Linked DNA regions of Homo sapiens. The protein of the gene in region 1 purifies or fractionates together with the protein of each later gene. This does not show direct contact. Each region holds a gene or a part of one and is shown in the gene's direction. Other genes may lie near its edges. The genes, in order: ZNF687 and ZMYND8.

Region 1 (10,479 bases):
GCTGGGATTACAGGTGTGAGCCACCACGCCCAGCTTGAACTTTATATAAATGGAATCATACTATATATTTATAGTATATATATACATAAATAGAATCCTACTCTCTATGTGAAGTTCAAGAATTTTTTCTTTTTTTTTTTTTTTTTTGAATCGGAGTGTCACTCTTGTTGCCCAGGCTGCAGTGCAATGGCACAATCTTGGCTCACCACAACCTCTGCCTCCCGGGTTCAAGCGATTCTCCTACCTCAGCCTCCCGAGTAGCTGGGATTACAGGCATGCACCACTAAGCCTGGCTAATTTTGGTATTTTTAGTAGAGACAGAATTTCTCCATGTTGGTCAGGCTGGTCTTGAACTCCTGATCTCAGGTGATCCACCAGCCTTGGCCTCCCAAAATGCTGGGATTACAGGAGTGAGCCACTGCACCCGGCCCATTCCTGCTGATTTAAATATCCAGGTAAATGAATCTTCCAGGCCACTGGCCTCTCAGTCTCTTGATCTCCCCTCCTAGTCCATTCCTCTCTCCTGAATGCCTATTTCCTATCTTTTTGCTCCTCAAATTCCTAGTTTCTTCTTCATCCTCACTCTTAGAGAGTGATCTTGATTTTTTATTCCCACGAAGAGTTTGACAACACATGTTCTTGTTTCTTATACCACTGGACAACAGAAGCAACAAAGAGATATCCCACAGCTCCCCAGCTCCCTCGACCCATGCCCGCTCACTCTGCCTTCTCTCCCAATTATTATTCGGGAACTGTCCCTGCCCCTGTGTAAGGCAATTCCTCTGTTTGTGAACTTGACCCTCTCGCTCACCTTCTGAAGAACATGACTCCAGAAACTTTCCCTATCGCTCTGCTACAACTTCGGTTTTTCCTGTCTACAGGATCCTCCCCACCCGTGTACTGACATACAACTTCTTCATCTTCAAACAGTCCTTTCCTTGGGTCAGTAGAACCTGATGAGAAAAAAATGTAACCATTAAAAGAAATAGTCCTCTTGGTCACTCTTTTTCCTCTAGTTACCATCTTTTTTCTCCTTCCTTCCTTTGAAAGAGTTTTATAGTGACTTTTCTTTTTTCCTCCTCCATTCTTGTAAACCCATTCCATGAAGGCTTTTGTCCCCACCAGTCCATCAACTCTCTCCTCATCATGATCACCAGTGACCTCCATTTTGCCTTAATCCATTGGTCAATTCTCAGGTTTCATCCTATTTGATATTTTAGTGGCATCTGACTATCATTCTCTCTTCCTCTTTCTTGAGATACTTTTTAAATTTAGCTTGAAGGTTACAACACTCTCCTGGTTCCTTCCTTCCTCTTTGCTGTTCTTCTCATCTCCTTGACCTTTTAACTTCGGAGTTTCCCATGCCTCAATCCTCCCTTGGTGATCTCATCCATTCTGACCTGGGTTTTAAATACTATCTATAAGCTGATGACACCTACATTTGTATCTCCACTTGGATGTGTAATACCTCAACATGACTAAAACTGAGCTACCGACCTAACCCCTAAAACCTGCATCTCCTGTAGTCTTCTCAGCTCAAGAAATGGGGCAACATCATGCTTCTACTTCCTCAGCCTCCATGCTTTGGAGTCTTTTTCTTTCTTCCACACCCCACTTTCAACCCTTTTAAAACGTTTAAGTCAGGCCACCATGTCATCTGTCTCCTTTTGATGGCTTTCTAACCCACCGTGAGAAAATGCCAAAGACCTTCCCATAGCTTCCAAAGCATCCCATGACCCAATTCACTCCTCCCACCCCCTCTGGAACACACTCCCCTCCTGAGGACCTTGTACTTGTTCTTTCCTCCTGGAATGTTCTTGTCCCAGATAGCTGCATGGCTCACTCCCTCATCTCTTTCAGACCTTTACTTAACCACCATCTTCTCGAAAAGGCCTTTACTGTCCACCCTACCTAAAATTGCAACCCTCCCACACTTACTGTCATCTTTCCTTGCTTTTGTTTTTGTTTTTTTGAGACAGAGTCTTGCTCTGTCACCCAGGCTGGAGTGTGGTGGTGCGATCTCGGCTCAATGCAACTTCTGCCTCCCGGGTTCAAGCGATTCTCCTGCCTCAGCCTCCCAAGTAGCTGGGACTATAGGCGTGTGCCACCATGACCAGCTAATTTTTTGTATTTTTAGTAGAGACAGGGTTTCACCATGTTAGCCAGAATGGTCTTGATCTCCTGACCTCATGGTCCACCCGCCTCGGCCTCCCAAAGTGCTGGGATTACAGGCATGAGCCACTGCGCCCAGCCGCCTGCTTTGTTTTTTTTTTTAAATTGTTTTTGTTTTTAAATTAATACACTTTATTTTTTACAGCATTTTTAGGTTTACAGAAAAATTGAGCACAAAATGCGAGTTCCCACACATCCTCTCTCTCCAGTTTCCCCTATTATTATTATTATTTTGAGACAAGGTCTTGGTCTTTTGCCCAGGCTGGGGTGTAGTGGTGTGATTACAGCTCACTGCAACCTTGACCTCCAGGGCTCAGGTGATTCTCCCTCCTCAGCCTCCCAAGTAGCTGGGACCACAGGTGTGCACCACCATGCCACGCTACTTAAAAAAAAGTTTTTTTGTAGAGATGGGGTCTCTCCATGTTGCTCAGGTTACTCTATTATTTATTAATATCTCGCATTAGTGTGGTACATTTGTTACAATTGATGAACCAATATGGAAACATTATTATTAAGAGACAGGGTCTCACTTTGTTGCCCAGGCTGGAGTGCGGCAGCAGGATCGTAGCTCACTGCAGCCTCAAACTTCTGGGCTCAAGGGACTCTCCTGCTTCAGCCACTTGAGTAGTTGGGACTACAGGTGTGCGCCACTGTACGCGGCTAATTTTTCAAATTTTTTGTTGATCCTCCCGCTTTGGCCTCCCAAAGTTCAGGGATTACATGTGTGAGCCACCATGCTCACAGGGTTCACTCTTTGTGTTGTACATTCCATGGCTGTTGACACATGTATCCACTATTACAGTATCACATAGAATAGTTTCAGTGTTGTAAGAGTCCCCTGTGCTCCATTTATTTATTCATCTCTCTCCCTCCACCTGAACCCTCAGCAACCAACCACTGATCTTTTTACTCTCTATAGTTTTGCCTTTTCTAGAATGTCACATAGCTGGAATCATACAGCATGCAACCTTTTCAGATTGGCTTCTTTCACTTAGTCATATGCATCGAAGATTCCTCTGTCTTTGCATGGCTTGATAACTCTATTTTATTCCTTGGCAGCTACCATTTCTAATATTTATTGTTTGTCTTCTCTTTAGGAATGTGTGTTTCATGACAGGGCTTCTTGTCTGCTTTGTTCATTGCTACATCTCCAGTACCTGAAATAGTACCTCCTTCCATGGTTGTGGTAAGGACTACGTGAGTTATTAATAATATGTTTATTAATAAAATAAATAAAGTTTTTCTGTGTGTGTGTGTTTTTTTTTTTTTTTTTTTTGAGACAGAGTCTCGCTCTGTCTCCCAGGTTGGAGTGCAGTGGTGCGATCCCGGCTCACTGTAGTTTTGACTTCCTGGACTCAAGCGATCCTTCCATCCCAGCCTCCCCAGTAGCTGGGATCACAGGTGCCTGCCAACACCCCTGGCTAATTTTTTTTTCCAAATATTCTGTAGAGGCAGAGTCCTGCTGTGTTGCACAGGCTAGTCTCGAACTCCAGGGCTCAAGTGAGCTACCCACCTAGACTTCTCAAAGTGCTGGGATTACAGGCGTGAGCCCCCCAAAATATTATGTGTATATGAGTAGTAATTGTTATTCCGCATAGGGAGACCAGAAGAGGAGGTGGAAATGGAATGCCGGTTGGTTACATCGGGTTAGGGACCTTTAATTAGTTGCTCAGAGAAGGAACAGCACCTGAGCAAATGCACAGGATGCAAGGCTCCGGGAGAAAGGGCACACTAATCCCAACTGCCAATTACTTTACAAAGCGTGTTTACATTCTAAACTCATTTAATTCTCACAAAAATAATATTGTCAGGTGGGTATTATAATCCCCGTTTTACTCATGAGAAAACAGGATCTGGGAGGTTGAGCGACTTGCCCATTGCGACCATAGGGCAAGTGGTGGCTCCAGGATTCCCATCCAGAAGTTCTGATTCATACTTCAAAGGAGCTCGGAAACTCTCCGGGTGCGCCGGGGAGTCCTGGTTCCGGTGTCCTGGGACTCCTGGGCAGGGTAACGAAACCACTTTTAAAAACTTTGCCGGGCCCGGTGGGTCACATCTGTAATCCCAGCACTTTGGGAGGCCAAGGCGGATGGATGATTTGAGGTCAGGAGTTCGAGACCAGCCTGGCCAATGCGGTGAAACCCCGTCTCTACTAAAAATACAAAAATGGCCGGCCGCGGTGGCTCATGCCTGTAATCCCAGCACTTTGGGAGGCCGAGGCGGGCGGATCACGAGGTCAGGAGATCAAGACTATCCTGGCTAACACGGTGAAACCCCGTCTCTACTAAAAACACAAAAAATTAGCCGGGCATTGTGGAGAGCGCCTGCAGTCCCAGCTACTCGGGAGGCTGAGGCAGGAGAATGGCGTGAACCCGGGAGGCGGAGCTTGCAGTGAGCCGAGATCGCGCCACTGCACTCCAGCCTGGGCGACACAGCGAGACTCCGTCTCAAAAAAAAAAAAAAAAGAAAAAAACAAAAATTAGCCGGGCGGGTAGTGTCGCACACCTGTAATCCCAGCTGGTCGGAAGGCTGAGGCAGGAGAATTGCTTGAGCCTGGGAGACGGAGGTTGCCGTGAGCCGAGATCCCGCCACTGCACTCCAGTCTGGACGACAGAATGAGGCCCCGTTTCAAAAAATAAAAAATAAAAAACTTCGCCAAGGTAGGGAGTAGTGGCTCACGTCTGTAGGATTGCTTGAGACCAGCCTGGGCAACATGGCAAAACCCTGTCTCTTCAAAAAATAAAAAAGTTAGCAGGGCGATTTGGCGCTCACTTGTAGTCCCAGCTACTCAGGAGGCTGAGGCGGGAGGATCACTGGAGCCTGGGAGGTTGAGGCTGCAGTCAGCCGTGATCGCGCCACTGTGCTCCCGCCTGGGCAGCAGAGTGAGGCTCTGCCTCAAAAAAATTAATTAAAAAATAAAAACACGCCGTTAACGAGCGGCTGCGTGCGCGAGGTGGCACACTGGGCTTGCATACGAATTCTGCCAGTGAGTGCTATTAGAGCATCAAGGAGATTCATTTTCCGAGCGACTCCTCCCTTTCCCCCGCCTCCAGGGGGCGTGGCAACAAAGCGCGGGAAAACTCGACCTTGACCCCACCCCCACTCCATGCTGGGGGCGGGGAAAAGGGGAGCCCTTAAATGGGAAATGGAGCTGGCGGTTCCCCCCCCAGCCCATACTTAGGACGCCTATCAGTTGCTCCTTTAATGCCTCTTTGGAAATGGCCCGGCCACGCCAGCACTCCTACGTCACCTCCCCCGCTTCCGGTCCGCGAGCCCTTCCCAACCTTTAGGTCCCGATTCCTTCCATGCTCCAAATCCCGTGCCCCGTCCACGCCCTCCCGCAGAGGGAGGAGCGACGGGTTACGCTGTCGCCCAGGAGCTGAACCGCGCGAGGACCCCATCCATCAGATTATATGGCGATTTAGACGGTGGGAAGACCGCAAGGAAATGGTCAGCGGATGACGTAATGTTTGGGGTGGCGTCCCATTCTGTAACTTCTGTACGGCATCAGTGACACGGGTTTAGCTTGAAACAGCGCAAAAGGACCTACACTTCTGTGCTCCACTCCGACTCAATGCGGTTCTGCTCTCAGTGCCCACCACACAGAAGCTGGGTTCCTTACATTCGCGAAAGTGAACTGCAGCTTCAAGCTTCGAGCGGCCAGTAGGGAGCGAGGGGCGGAGACGCACCTGGGTGCTCCCCCTTCCAGTAGGCAAGCTGGGAAGCAGGCTGGCTTCTTTCTAAGCGACAGTGGCGGAGGCCAATCGTTTACGAGACTCGTAGATGGGGCAGACGGACCCCGGCGCAGCCAATGGGGAGAGGTATCTTCAGAGGGCCTCGGCCCCTTGCCCAATGAGCATAAGAGGACTGTGCGGGGCTAGTTCCGAGCGGCAGTATTTAGGGCCAACCCAGTGCGGGGCTGGAAGGGGCACAGGGCTGAGCGACGGGGGCAAGGGCCAATGGCGAGTGCGAAAACGGGCAGCCCAGACCTGGAGCGCGGAGGGAGGAGAGGGAGTGGGGAGGCCGAACCGGAGAGAAGCAGGAAGTAGCGGCGGCCGCGGGGAGGGCGGCGGTGGCTGCAGCGGCTGGAGCGGGGTAGAGACCGCCGGGTCTCGGCCCGCACCAGGAGCGGAACAAGTAAGCGTGCCTGGGGTAAATACCCGCCCTTGGCTCCGCCCCCTTGGGGGGGGCGGGTAAATACCCCCGCCCCTCCCCCACTTGGTCAACTACCCCCTTCTCCGCGCCGCCCCCTGGGGCGGCTTCTAGGAAGGCCCAGACACCGCCTCCATCCATTGGGGCGGATGGGCGAAACTCCTGGCCTGTTGTAAGCACAGTCCGTAGCCGGGTAAACCCCCAGGAGGGTCGAGAACCCCAGGTCCTGGCGCCCCCGGCTCGAGAGGCACCCGAAGTGCGGCCCGGAGATTGAAGGCTGCGGGATGTCGCGACCTAAAATGGTGTCCGTTCCCGGGGATGGGGGCGGGGGACCTGGGCCAGGCCGGAGCAGAACCTGCACCCCGACTGGGTGCGGGTCAGCGTCCGGGCCCGGGCAAGACTCAGGCTTGCGCCCCCGGCCCCCTGCGCACCCCCCGATCAGTCTCCAGTCTCTAGCGAGCCTCCGGGAGTGCGCGGCGGGAGGAGGCTCCGCTGCGCCCGGAGGGGAGGGGACGAGGTCCGAGTTGGGACGGACCCCAGCTAGAGAGCTGAGAGTCGCGCAGAGACCGTCCCCTCTCTCCTCCCCTCTTTCCAGCTCCCCACCCTATCCTGTGTAGTCCTGGGTCCCCAGGTGCTGCGCAGCAGCTCCCAAAGGGCCTGGCCTGGCTGAGGCCCGGCCTTCGCTTCGCACGCCGGTGCGAGTGAGAGAAGGGCCGCGCGCCTCAGTTTCCCTTGTAGTTTCTCATGTGTACACCCCGCCCCCTCCTCGAAACCCAGGACTTGCTCCCCGCGCCAGCCCTCGGCAGATGGCAGGGACTTAATTCCGTCTGCTACCCAGCTTGGCCTCAACCTAATCGCCGCCAGCCCCTCGCCCTCCTCTGCGCTGCAGGCCTTGGGCCCGGGCAAAGGTCAGTGGAGCCCCCACTCGACCTGGGCCTGTTCAGCCTCTTCCTGTTCAGCCTCTTTGGCTTTTGGGGAACCACAGAGGGAAAGGGGGCGGGGGAGATAGGAGCCCTAGAGACAGGGCTCAGCAGTCGCAGGAAGGCCTGATCCTCCTTGGCTTGAGCTTGGCGGCTTGCTTGGTCGACTGTCTGCTCTGGGTGGGTGGCCATCGGATGACCTCTAAGTCACTGGGGCACCCAAGAGGGAGGTGGCTGGCGGGGTGTGGGGGCGGGTGAGTTCGCAGGTGTTTTCTCCTAGTCCCCGCTGGTCTTCGTTGTAGCAGTCCACTTTTCTGAGTACCTGAGTGGAAGGTAGCTCAGGCCTCTGGTCAGGAGGGAACCAGGCTTAGGAGCCAGGCCTATAGAGACAAGGGTTTTTGTTTAAACCCAGATTCTGCAGAATTGAATAGGGTGGGGGTGAGGGGAGGACTCCCCCTTTGGTTTTGCCCCCACCCCAACCTTGGTCCCAGCAATCCCAGCTGCCACTTGCTGGGACTGTCTCTAGTTACAGTCTGAAGACTGGAGAGAGGTGGGAGAGCTGGCTGGGAAATGGCCTGCAACCTGGGCAGGGAATGGATAGGGATAGACTCTTTAGTTGCTTCTTCGTAGATACAGAAACACTCATGGGGAGACACTGGTAGGGGACAGACCTGGGTCTCCCACAAACTCTGAGCTGGCCTGCTTGTTGGATTAGTGCCACATAATTCTTGTGGGATTTTTAATTTTATTTTTTGCACTTGGCCAGGTTGAGGCTAGGTGAAACTTCCTGGGCTACTGTTGCCACAGGAAAATGGAAAGGGTGAGGAGTTAAAGTTAGGGGATGGAATGGGGTGAGGAGCTTGGAGCAGAAATGATGGGTGAGGGTTGAGGGAGCCTGGCTTTTTCCCACTGTGGCAGCTGTGCTGGAGAAATGTGTATGTATCTTGGGAGTTTTAGCCTCGGGAAAGCAAGATGGGGAGGGGTGGAGAAGGAAGGGCTGGCTAGGGGAGGGCCAGGCACTCTGGGGAAGGTAGTGAGCGAGCAGCAGGTGTTTGTGACAGGAGAGGTCTAGGCTGGGGCCCTTGTGACCAGGCTGCCATCACCATTTTCCCCTCTGTCTCTTCTCTTTGTCTCTTTCTGTTCCTGTGTCTTATTCTTTCCATCTTGGTCTCTTGGGTAATTTCCTTGAGTCCTTTTCTCCCTGCTGACCAAGCTAGATCTCCAGGTGCCAGTGATGGCCCAGGTGCCCTAGACTTGATCCTGCATGACCCCTGACTCTTGCCTCCGACCCCAGCCCTAGAGTTCCAGTGCTTATTCCTTTCCAGTTCCTCCTTGACCTGACATGTCCTTGCTTGGTTCATCTGGAATAGTAAATCGTATTCTTGGTGGGATTCTTACATTAGCAATTTTGTATTATGCTCAGAATAACCCTATGATACATAGATCACTTGTGCTCTCTGCCTTGTCTTGTCTTTTTTTTTTTTTTTTTTTTTTTTTTTGAGACGGTATCACTCTGTCACCCAGGCTGGAGTGCAGTGGCATGATCATGGCCCATCACAGCCTCGACCTCCCGGGCTCAGGGGATCCTCCCATGTCAGCTGGGAGGCATAGCTGGGACTACAGGCACGTGCCATCATGCCTGGGGAGTTTCACCATGTTGCCCAGGGTGGTCTTGAACTCCTGGGCCCAAGTGATTGGCCTCCCAAAGTGCTGGGATTACAGATGTGAGCCACCACACCCGGCCATTTGTGTCCTCTTTCAAACAGCAAAAGTAAGGCACTGAAGAAACTTGCTTGTACTGCACGCCCCTGATAAAGCTGAACGAGGATCATTTCTTAAGTCTTGGCTTATGGCATTGTCCCTTTGTACATGCAGCCTTTCAGATCTGTGTGGACCCCAGAAGATCCGTGAAGAATATGAATTGATTCCATGCGGACATGAATGAGTCCTTAAACCTAGAACATCATGTACATCATCCTCCTTAATAATAGTATTGATTATTTGGTTCTATGCTGGGGACCGGAGGGGATGAGATGGTTTCCACCAGAATGCTCACTGAGCTCTATTACCCTTCCCTGTTCCCTGTATTTTTTTTTTTTTTCTGAGACAGTCTTGCTCTGTCGCCCAGGTGGGAGTGCAGTGGCACGATCTCAGCTCACTGCAAACTCCACCTCCCAGGTTCAAGCAATTCTTCTGCCTCAGCCTCCCGAGTAGCTGGGACTACAGGTGTGTGCTGCCATGCCCAGCTAATTTTTGTATTTTTAGTAGAGACGGGGTTTCACTATCTTGGCCAGGATGGTCTTGATCTCCTGACCTCGTGATCCGCCCGCCTCTGCCTCCCCAAGTGCTGGGATTACAGGCGTGAGCCACCATGCCCAGCCCCCTATATTTCTTTTTTTTGAGACAGGGTCTCGCTCTGTCCAGGCTGGAGTGCAGTGGCGTGATCTTGGCTCATTGAAACCTCAACCTCATGGGTTCAGGCGATTCTCCTGCCTCAGCCTCCTTTGTAGCTGCGATTACAGGCATGTGCCACCACACCTGTCTAGTTTTTTGTATTTTTAGTAGAGACAAGGTTTCACCATGTTGGCCAAGCTGGTCTCAAACTCCTGACCTCAAGTGATCCATCTGCCTCAGCCTCCCAAAACGCTGGGATTACAAGCATGAGCCACCGCACCTGGCCCCTTCCCTGTATTTCTAAGAACTCTCTTTTCCCCTGCTTTCTCTGGATTTTGGAGCCCACCAAGGTATGGACACTAATCCTCTTCTGATTTTAAGGTTTGGCAAACCTAGCAGCTCTGTAGGATTCATGCCGTGGCGGAGGTGTACCTAAGTTGGAGTGTATGTGGGTTCTGAGAGAGGATAAATATGGAGATGCTGAGGGAAGAGCTCCAGGATCTCTCTTCTAGACATCTCAGTTTCTCCTCCTCGTTCCTGTTTTCATCAGGTCTGGGATCTGCCGATATGGGGGATATGAAGACCCCTGATTTTGATGACCTCCTTGCTGCCTTTGACATCCCTGACATTGATGCGAATGAAGCCATCCATTCTGGGCCAGAAGAAAATGAGGGGCCTGGAGGCCCAGGGAAGCCAGAACCAGGTGTAGGAAGTGAATCTGAAGACACAGCAGCAGCCTCTGCTGGGGATGGCCCTGGAGTTCCAGCCCAGGCCTCTGACCATGGCCTGCCACCGCCAGACATTTCTGTAGTCAGTGTCATTGTCAAGAACACTGTGTGTC
Region 2 (9,739 bases), on another chromosome or scaffold:
AAGTCCCAAATCTGCCAGCCTGTTCTCTCTTCCTAACTGTGGAAAAATGAGACGGTTGCTTGAACATTTGTTGGGTAAGTAAAGCAATCCATTTCCTCTGTGACCATGTTTGAAGAGTTTTGCGAACATTTGGGGTCTGTTTGTAATAGTGGGTCTTGGCTACAGGAGTTGGGGGCTTCATTAGCAGGAACAAAATAAGGGCTTTTTAAAGAGTGTCTTGATTTTAGGTGACTGTTTGAATCCACTGTTTTTCCTGATAACCTGCAGCTAGGATTGAAGATTATACTTCCTGTTTACCCTGAGTCAGGGGAGAAATGTTCAGTTCATTGTGACTTGACTCTAGACCTTTAATGGGGTTTGTTTGGATATTCAAACTGTGAGTAGGTGATGTGCTTGTGAAATGTCATGAAACTGCTTGTTCTTAGAGGTGCAGAGCCCTAAAAACATTGGTGGTGTAGAAGCTGGTGGTGGTGGTGGTATGTGTGTGTTGGGGGGGTGGTGTCAGTGTGCTCATGTTTTAGGACTTATGTATAGTGCAAAATCTCATCTACCACCAGACTGGGTTTGATTCAGGACTCACTGACCAACACATTTTGGCCTTTTTTCAGGTCTCCTCCACACATCTGTATGCATGCTGGCCCCACATAAGATTTCTCACTTTTTACATTTCCCTTGACCACTTAAGGCTGCAGCTAGAAGTTAAGTGGGAAAAGTAGAGTCTTGTTTAGCAGTACCTTCAGAATTTCCCTAGAAGTTCAGTACATAAATTTTCAGCTTGGAGACCAATCCGACATGACCGTAAATGCAGGAAATATATTCAATTGCTGTGTTATGTCAACTTTATGGAGTCAGTAATCTTTTTTCTTTCAAATGAGTGTCCAGTAGCCCACTTTCTGACACCGAATTGGAAAAAGGCTCATTTAATCAGCAGAAACGTACCACATTCTAAGTTGAGAAAAGTCTGTGCAAGGCAGGCCAGCTTAGCTTCTTAGAGTAAAACTGCAGGCAGTTAATGATGTTATATACTTAAAACTGAACAGTGCCACTGCCCCAAACAAGTAAGTTCAGACACTCAGCTATTTTCTTTGTTCTTATCTCCTTGCTGTAAATGGAAATTACATATCGAGGTTCTTGTGGCCTCCCTAGAAGCAATATCTAATCATAAGACTCCTGGTTTGGTGCCTTCAACGTTTGCATAATACTGTGTTTGTTGGGCTGGAAGGGAACTTAAGGGCAAGGCATTTGTCCTCTAAAAGCTTGCATTAAAATGGCTCCCACAGGTTTGGAGAGCCAAGATCTGTTTTCAAATGTACAGCCCCCAGCAAGTTCCCAACCCTGGACCAAGCTAGCCACTTTTCCTCTGGTACTGTGACCCCTACCAAGCATGAGTCTGTAAAAAGTTAATTGCTTTCAAAGTAGCATTATTTTCCAGTTTCAGGAAAGGGGGAAAAAAATAAATGTCTGCATTGCAGCAGGACTAGGTAGGGACGGCAGTACTGGCTCCCAGAGCAGCCCAATGGGGTTCTTCTACTCTAGCTTTTAAACCAATAGACTTGGAGGAAAGGTTAAAGATTGACAATTGCAGTGGCCGAACTAAGAACGGGCCTTCTGGAAATTTCTACCATCTTTGTTCCTTTTAGGAAAAGCAGATCTGCCAAGCAGAAGCGTCTCCTACCTTCCATTCCTAGGTCATCTCCCTTCCCTGCTTCCCCCCAACCCCCCTTCTTTTTCTCATCAAGGTAGAATGTTCTCTCTGCCACGTTTGTAAATTGCAGAAGGAGGAACAGAATGTTGGGCTGTTTTCCTTTTTCCTTCTGCCTCCTCAGTCCCCAAAGAGGATACACAGCTGCAAGGAGCAAACACAGACACACTGAAGCTTTTGATTCCTCTCCTTTTTTTTCCTTCAAGACCCTCCAGGATGGATTCACTTTCTGCTTTGGGAAATTAAGTGGCATTCACGTGGGGGAGGGGGAGTAACTGCTTTTATTAGCTCCAGAAAATGGTCAGTGTTCAGTCTGTAACTAGGAATTAATTATATATAATCACTCAGTAAACTTTCTACAGAGTTTTTCTAATTGCTGAGCCTGATCATAGTTAGCCCGTTGGCGCCAAGTCCAGTTACTTTTATAATTAACAGCTCAAAGATTTGAGTCAGAAAGAAACAATTGGGGGCCTCTTGGATTATAAATTAGGGATGAAAACAATAGCTTTTTTTCCTTTCTTTCTTGTCATCCCTTTTATTTTCAACAAAACATTTCCCCTTTTCTTTCCCTGGGAGAACCAGTGGGGAGACTGCATCAGGTCTTAAATAGGATGAGGGGGGAGACACTTTTTAGGAAGTGGGGTGACAGTAACCTAGAAAACCCTGGAGGCAAAGGTAGGTTTTTAAAAGTCCAGCCACTTGCAACGCGTGATGTCTTTGTTTCTTTTGCCCTCTTTCCCCTTCTCTCTCCTGTGGCAGAGGCAGCAGACATTTGTCAGCCTGGGAACCCTCAATCTGGCTTTGCCTCTGGTTGACTCTGGAAAGAAAGATACATTCAAAGGGGCCTTCGCTACTGCACAGCAGAGATTTAAAAAGGGAATATGTTTCAGAACCCTTTGGTTACTCTTAAAATGCAAGATCTGAGCAAGGGTTCACCCTTGGCTTCAGGTTGCTAAGGTTATGGTCACCCTCCCCGCTACTTCCCACTCTCCTTGCAGACAAACAAACAGGCAGTGGCCATGCCAGCTCTGCAGCCAGTGTGCTGCCAGCCTGTCCCCCCCATCCCGATTACCTTACCTACCGGCCGGCGGGGGCCAGTGGCCCGTCCTTGCCCTGGCATGGCCTTGGGCACTGTGCCCTCCTTTCTCCCCTGGAGCTAAAAAGCAGTCACCTTGAAACTCCTCACTCCCAGCACCAGAGGAGTTCTGAGGCCAATGCTCAGACCTGTAACAGTAAATGACGTTATCCACTCAGGCTGTTAGTTCGGCCTCTGAAAGCGGGTTTTGCAAAACCCATTGTTAATTCTCAGGCTCTGTTGGGGGTGGTCAGAAATCTAATTTGTGAGTATCCTGTGCATTGGATAAGGGAATGTTTTCCTTGTGTTTCTCCTCTGCAGACTCGGATTGTCTTTCCTTGATGTTAACTGTCTTAGGACTGGCTGCTTCAGAGGGCTGGGTATTTGGTGGCTGTTTGCAGGCTTATAAACAGCCTTTTTATTTTACCTTTGCCGTAGACTGAGGTGCAGCCCTTTAGCTTGGCTTTTCAGATGCCTGCTGTCCTTGAAGCACTTTCATTTTACCTAGCGCCTTTTTGGTATGGATGCAAAGCTGGTTTCTAATAGACTGAGAAGAGAAGGGGGACCGGGCTTCCTCCTTGCCTTCCCCCAGGCTGCTCCCTGGGAACATTTTTGTGTTTGCACAGACACCTGTCCGTCTGCAGTTTGTGCCACGGGGCTGCACGATTCCTAACCTTCTACCCACCTAATTTGAGGGCAAGGGGGCCTCATCACAGAGCCTCATGTTGAAGGCTCAGGATCTACAAGAGAAGGCTTTTCCTTAGGAACCTGTGACTTCACAAACTCTCCCTGTCATTGCAGAGTTTTTTTTAAGCTTCTAAACGTTGGGTTGTTGGTGTCCTTTGGTTCAGCTTTTCCTAGTTCTGGTATTTAGGAAGGTGGCTTTGAAACTCGCAGGGCTGCTTAAACAAGAGCTACAGCTATTGAACAAACTGCTACCATTTTAGCTTCAACACAGGAATGAGGCAGTGTTGCCAGACGCCATTTTAAGAATCCTGCATAAATAGCTTAGCTACCGATGACTCTGCCTGTTTTAGGTGAGTGCTTATATAAAGCTGCTCTGCTAACCATTCCCCCCCACCCCAATTTCTTAAAAAATTAATTGTAGATTTAGGGAAGCATGGTTTTTAATTTTGATGTTCACTATTTTGTAATCTAGAAGAGGAAGATGTTATGCCTTGGGGATTAAATATTTCTTACAGCCTGGACCATTTTGGTATTTTGAATGAAAAGTAAAAACCAGGAAAAGTCCTTTCGAATGATGCATGATTCTTGAATTGCTGTGCGATGATCCTCATCTGTAGAACCAGAGTCTTGTGCATGTTGGTTATATATTCTAGATGGCTTAGATACTCTTCTTTAAAAGTCAAATAGTAGGGGCACTTGGGGAAAAGAAATATGTGGGCATTGTGTATTCAGGCATTTTTCTGTCAAAACTAGATGCTTTCTTTTTTCTCTCTCTTGGAAGTGTTGAGGAGATGAGATTCCTGGGAATTACGGACCATCCCTGAGTCCTCAGAATTAACAATCAGAAGGCTTAAAGCATCCTGGAGGTGCAGTAGTTCATCTGCAACTTTTAATTGCTCTTTTTTCAGTGCATGCAGGTTAAGAAGTAAGCATAGGTTTTCTTGCTCAGGCACTGGGGGAGAAATCTTTTATTCTTTTTGGGATGGGATGGGGTGGTCTTGGTTATCTTTGCAGGTACTGTTATTTCTTTGAATTGCCTCAAATGTATCAGTTTGTGAAATCTGCAGGCAAATGACTTGGGTAAATGTGAGTGTAAGAGGTGGTGGTGTATACAATGTATCTAACTAGTTGATGGTGTATTTTCCTATTGGAGTGAGAAATTGTTTGCTTTTCAGCTAATTTTACCCTTTTCTGTAGCGGGCCCCCAGTTTCCTCAACAGACCTTTAAAGGGAAAAAAGTAATGTCAGTTTGAAACAAGAGCTTGTTGTCCCATTGTTTTTGATTTAAATCATCAGGGTTGCTGGAAGCTAGCAGATATGGAAGGAAATAAGCTGTCTATGTTCTAAGACTTTAATGTGTTAATGACAGAAGTTCAGAGTATTTTCTCCAGATGCAGCTGCCTTTTCTTTTTAAGAATTATTTGACTGTTTTTTTTCCCCCAAATGACTGAACAGTTCTTAACCTAAATTGACCAACATCAGTGGGGCAATTCAGACAGGTACAGATCTTTTCTTGCGCCTACTTTTGATGTAATATTCATTTTTTTTTCCTAATAACATACTAGTTCTTAACACTAAATCAAAAAAAAACACACACACACACACAAAAAAACCGAAATCAGTGGTGTAGGAAAAAGGAAGTCCCTTTAGATGTGGCTATTCAAAATGACTAATTTTGCATTCTGGTCTTTGCTTTTGTAAATGAAGTTTTTTTTTTTTTTTTTTTTTTTTCTCCTTTTAATGCATAGACACTGCAGTTTCCTTTAGTCAAATACAAGTTAATTGTGTGTGTGAGTGTGCGTGCATGTGTGTGCACGGGTTCCTTTTGAAAGGATGGTTTGCTGATCTGTGAAAAAGATGGTTTTCTTAAATTGTTGTGCTTGAAATGCTGTGCTAAAGCTGGTGGTGCTATTGCTAAAGTTGGGTGATTATGGTGCCCACTTGTAATACTTGGAAAGATAAAACAGCTTAACTTTTTTTTCCCTCTCTCTTCTGCTCCAGCATTGATTATCTTAAAACTCAGAAGCAAATAGCCACCACATAACTAGTTTGCATTTTCCTCGTCTCTCAGCAGCATTCCTGCCTGAAGTATTCAGCTCCTCTAGGCTGTTACAAGCCAAATAATGGTTCCCTTGAATGCAGCCTTCCTCCATGATCAATACACCTTTGAATGTTTTCATCGCTGCAGAAATCCTTCAAGTGGGTTTTTTTTGGCTCAGTTCTGCATAATTGTTTCCCTCACCACTGTAGATTTCAGTTGGATCACAGATTAGCGTTTTCTCTATTACTCAAAATATGGGATCGGTTTCAAGAAGTTTAGAATTTCACATACTTCATGCTAGAGAGGGAAACAGAATTCTAGTTGCTAGAAAAGATCAAGGTTGCTATTTGTTCCTTTGAAGTTAACTGTCTACCCATCTCCGAGGGCTGCATGGGGCTTTTTGTTAAGATGTATTTCCAGTCACCCCAAGCCAGAACCCATCAACAGCATCCAGTTGGACAACCTGTGTATGTTTCAGGCAGAGTGTTTCTGAGTTGAGAATGTTTTCTCCTTAAGTTGGAATAGAAAGCATTAGTGCTGAAATAACCTTCAATAAATCACCGTTGTATTATTGCATATAAGCGATGTGTTTAAATTTAGCAGGCTGCTTTCTCCTGATGAAAACCATTTGTGACAACATGTCAGTTGTTTCTTTGGTGATTTGTGTCACAGGCTTTCTTTACAGATGCGGTGTAAATGAAATTGTTAACGGGGTTCAAAATCAGATGGCTAAATGTGTTAATATTCTCATTTAAACCCAACTACCTTTCTTCGTCTCCAAGCCCCTATAATTTAACTCTGAACTATAATCTTTTCCATTCTATCTAGCTCCCATCCTAAGTCCTCTCCTCCTAACGTGGAACTCTCCTAAAATCTTCTCCTTATACTAGGGTTCGAGACATGAGGCTGTCTTTTTGGGCCTTTTGCGTTGTCACAGTCCCAGACCACGGAACATTCTCTCTTCCCCAGGACAGGACATTCTCTCTTCCCCAGCCTCCTTCCTGTCCTGGCGTTGAGTCTTCCAAATGGAAAATTCCAGCCATATCAATTGGTGATGCACCCATTTCTTCCTGTGGAACGACAGTCTGATGGAATTGCTTCTGGAGTAAATGCCCAGCTTCTTACCACTTCAGTGTCAGCCTGAATGTTTGGAAAGTTCTAGCACCTCAAACCATTTGCATCTATGAAAGCAGAACTCTATTTTTTCCCTTTGGTTTAGCTTGTGAGTTCTCTGTGGGAGGAAGATCTGATATGGCCGGCTCTCTTTCAACCCTAGTTCCAGCAGAGAGAGAGAGAGAATGTTCTGGGTGACGGACCCTCCCAGCAAAGGGGCTTGCTTTATTTGCTTCTCTCCCCAACCCTCCACTCTTAGCCTTTGTCTTTTGAATAATCCTTCCTCATTCCACTTTTGTGGTGGGGGATAATTAGTCACAACTCAGTAGTAAGCCGTGCCTGCTGTAGAGAGGAAGCATTCAGGGGGTTGGAAGTGTGGAGACCCCAGTCTGATTGCTGGAATCAGTGCTCCTCGGTTCAGTGTTTTGAGACCAGGTCTTTAGCTTCTAGCTGGGCATATTTTTCTGCTTTGTAATTTAACCTGTATCTTTTTTTTCCCATGTTCCTGCCTCATCAGGGAATTGTAAGATTTAGGGGGAGGTGTGGGAAATCTTACTCTTTGCCCTAAAGTATTCAGCGATCAGAATTCTGGATACCCTGCAAAACACCTCCAACCTCCCTGCCTTTGAACCCTGTGTTAACAATGAGAAGCTTGTTTATTTGAAGGCTGGGTTCTCATTGGCCCACAGGGGTAGGTTGTAATTGTGTGTCTAAAAAATTGCCTTTTGCATTCCCCAATAGCATGACAACTGGAATAGTAATTTGACTTAAAAAAAAAAAGAACAACCTAGTGTTTTAAAAAACTCCTTTAGGACTCTTCACACTTTGTTGAAATCAGGTGTGGGTTTCCTCCCCCAGCCCTGGATAAGGATGAGGGAATGTCTTTAAGGTGTGTTTGTTGCTAGAACTTCCAAATAGCTGCCCCCATGGGGCAAGTTCTCAGCCTTCCTAAACATGAACATAATTTGCTCTGTTTCAGCTTGGCTGAAGAGGAAATAAAAACAGAACAGGAGGTGGTAGAGGGCATGGATATCTCTACTCGCTCCAAAGGTGAGTAAAAATCTTGTATTATCTATTCTAGAGCTAAGGAGGAAATTGGAATTTCTTTTTGTTGTTGTAGTGCAGTGAAGTGTGTGGCTCTCTGAGCCGACGTTGTAACTCTTCTTGGATTTTCAGATATAAGATTTTTTGATGGATGAACCTAATTGATGGAGAACTCTCCTCCTTTTGGTTTTCTTTCCCTGGTGCCTGTGTAGGGGTCCTGACAGTGAATTTTACCTGTGTGTCATGACTGAGGGTGGCTGGCTACCTCTCCGCAGGGTGACTTTCAGGAGCCACAGTTTAAATAAAGCATGTTCTGGAAGCCACCAGAGCCTCTAGCTGCTGCTCGTTTTCTGATTTTAACAACAGACCTCTTTGGAATCCCAGAAGTGGGATGAAGTCAGCCCGCTTCACTGGAAAGTGGTGGTCTTGGGTTAGAGATAAAAAGGAAATGTAGAGCTTGCTGGGATGCCGGGGCCAGTGTTTGCATTTAGTTCAAAATTTAGCAAATTAGGACAAACACAATTTATGCGTTTATTCACAAGCCTGGAGTAGACTCCTGAATATCTTCTAATTGAGGGATTGGTACTTTTCATTTGGTCTTTGTGAAAGAGATTTTATGAGGCTTCCCAAAATGAAGCAGTTATTCACTTTTACCTTCAGGGTGCTTTCACAAATGAGCTACTGGAGTATTTTTCGTATCTTTGGTTGATGAAAAGGCTCATCTCCAAACTTAATGGTTGTACCAAGGTGTTTTCATTCCTTCAACAAGTCACTGAGTGCTTTCTTGGAACACACAGCCTTGCACTGGGGGTTATGGGGAGGGAGGAAGAGGCTGGACAGGGTTACTGCATACTGCCGGAAGGAGATTCTCATTTGGCTGCAGAGTGTCGCACAAAGTGACTCCCTAAAGGCGTCTGAAACCAAAAGCATTTTGAGGATTGTTACAAGACAGCGTGTCGCCAGGCGTGGTGGCTCATGCCTGTAATCCCAGCACTTTGGGAGGCCAAGGCGGACCATCACGAGGTCAGGCGTTCGAGACCAGCCTGGCCAACATGGTGAAACCCCCGTCTCTACTAAAAATACAAAAATTAGTCGGGCATGGTGGCACGCGCCTGTAATCCTAGCTACTTAGGAGGTTGAGGCAGGAGAATCACTTGAACCTGGGAGGCGGAGGTTGCAGTGAGCTGAGATCGCACCACTGCACTCCAGCCTGGGCGACAGAGCAAGACTCCATCTCAAAAAAAAAAAGACAGTATGTCATTTTGGGGCAAAGTTGAGGGTCCAGTAGTCAAGGCTGGGACCTGGGAAGCAGAAGCTGGCTGCTGATCTCTGGCAGGGGTCACAGAAGGGGAGGCACCCTGGGTGGGAAGGCCTGGCTTACTGGGTGGGTGCTGTGTGCTGGGGAGCAGCAGGAGGAGGCTGGGCGGAGGCAGAGGGCTGCTGCCCCCTCATCACAGCATGACCCAGCCTGTGCTGGGTGGCAGGAAGTTTCAGTGCCATTGATGGTGAAGAGAGCTGAGCCACCAGGGACTTCAGAGCAAGGAAGGTACCTTCTCACAGAGGTGTTTTTGATGTTGCAGGAGCACGTGCCTCTCAGCCACTTCTCAGCCCCCTTGTTGTGGTCAGAATCAAATGTGGTCCAGCAGGAGACGGGGCAAAGTGGAGAGGGACTGAAGAGAGGGGGCCAGGAGGGTGGGGGTCTTGTCCCTGTTCTGCTGCTTACCTTCCCCAGGGGGCTTGGACACTGGCTCTGTCCCTTCATTTTTGTATTTGTGAAGTGGGGTGTTGGATTAGATTCTATCCAAGCATGACCAAGCTGAGTGACCATTGTCTCTTTCTCTCTTTTCTCCTACTCCCATCCTCACCCTTCAGCAGCCAGAATGCGCTTCAAAAACGTGGATTGGGGTCAGGCACAGTGGCGCATGCCAATCATCCCAGCTACTTGAGAGACTGAAGTGGGAGGATCAGTTGAGGCCAGGAGTTTGAAACCAGCCTGGGCAACTTAACGAGACCCCCCCCTCCCGCCCCCATCTCTATTAAAAAAAAAAAAGTGGACAGAGTGCGTTGGCTCACGCCT

The links.
Region 2: the proteins of ZNF687 (region 1) and ZMYND8 purify together in Homo sapiens (affinity purification with mass spectrometry; 4 studies listed by BioGRID and IntAct, with this or other methods). This does not show direct contact.

What each region holds. Positions count from the first base shown.
Region 1 is NC_000001.11:151,276,087-151,286,565, forward strand, and holds the start of ZNF687 (zinc finger protein 687), read left to right. Parts: upstream 1-6,212; 5' UTR 6,213-6,309; exon of another isoform or gene 6,310-6,324; intron 6,325-6,446; exon of another isoform or gene 6,447-6,473; coding exon of another isoform or gene 6,474-6,496; intron 6,497-7,101; coding exon of another isoform or gene 7,102-7,232; intron 7,233-9,119; exon of another isoform or gene 9,120-9,988; intron 9,989-10,188; coding exon of another isoform or gene 10,189-10,205; coding exon 10,206-10,479. UniProt on the Homo sapiens protein: May be involved in transcriptional regulation.
Region 2 is NC_000020.11:47,345,785-47,355,523, reverse strand, and holds part of ZMYND8 (MYND-type zinc finger-containing chromatin reader ZMYND8), read left to right. Parts: intron 1-3; exon of another isoform or gene 4-74; intron 75-890; exon of another isoform or gene 891-2,519; intron 2,520-2,783; exon of another isoform or gene 2,784-2,963; intron 2,964-3,774; exon of another isoform or gene 3,775-3,814; intron 3,815-4,245; exon of another isoform or gene 4,246-4,330; intron 4,331-5,535; exon of another isoform or gene 5,536-5,634; coding exon of another isoform or gene 5,635-5,663; intron 5,664-7,597; coding exon 7,598-7,668; intron 7,669-9,739. UniProt on the Homo sapiens protein: Chromatin reader that recognizes dual histone modifications such as histone H3.1 dimethylated at 'Lys-36' and histone H4 acetylated at 'Lys-16' (H3.1K36me2-H4K16ac) and histone H3 methylated at 'Lys-4' and histone H4 acetylated at 'Lys-14' (H3K4me1-H3K14ac).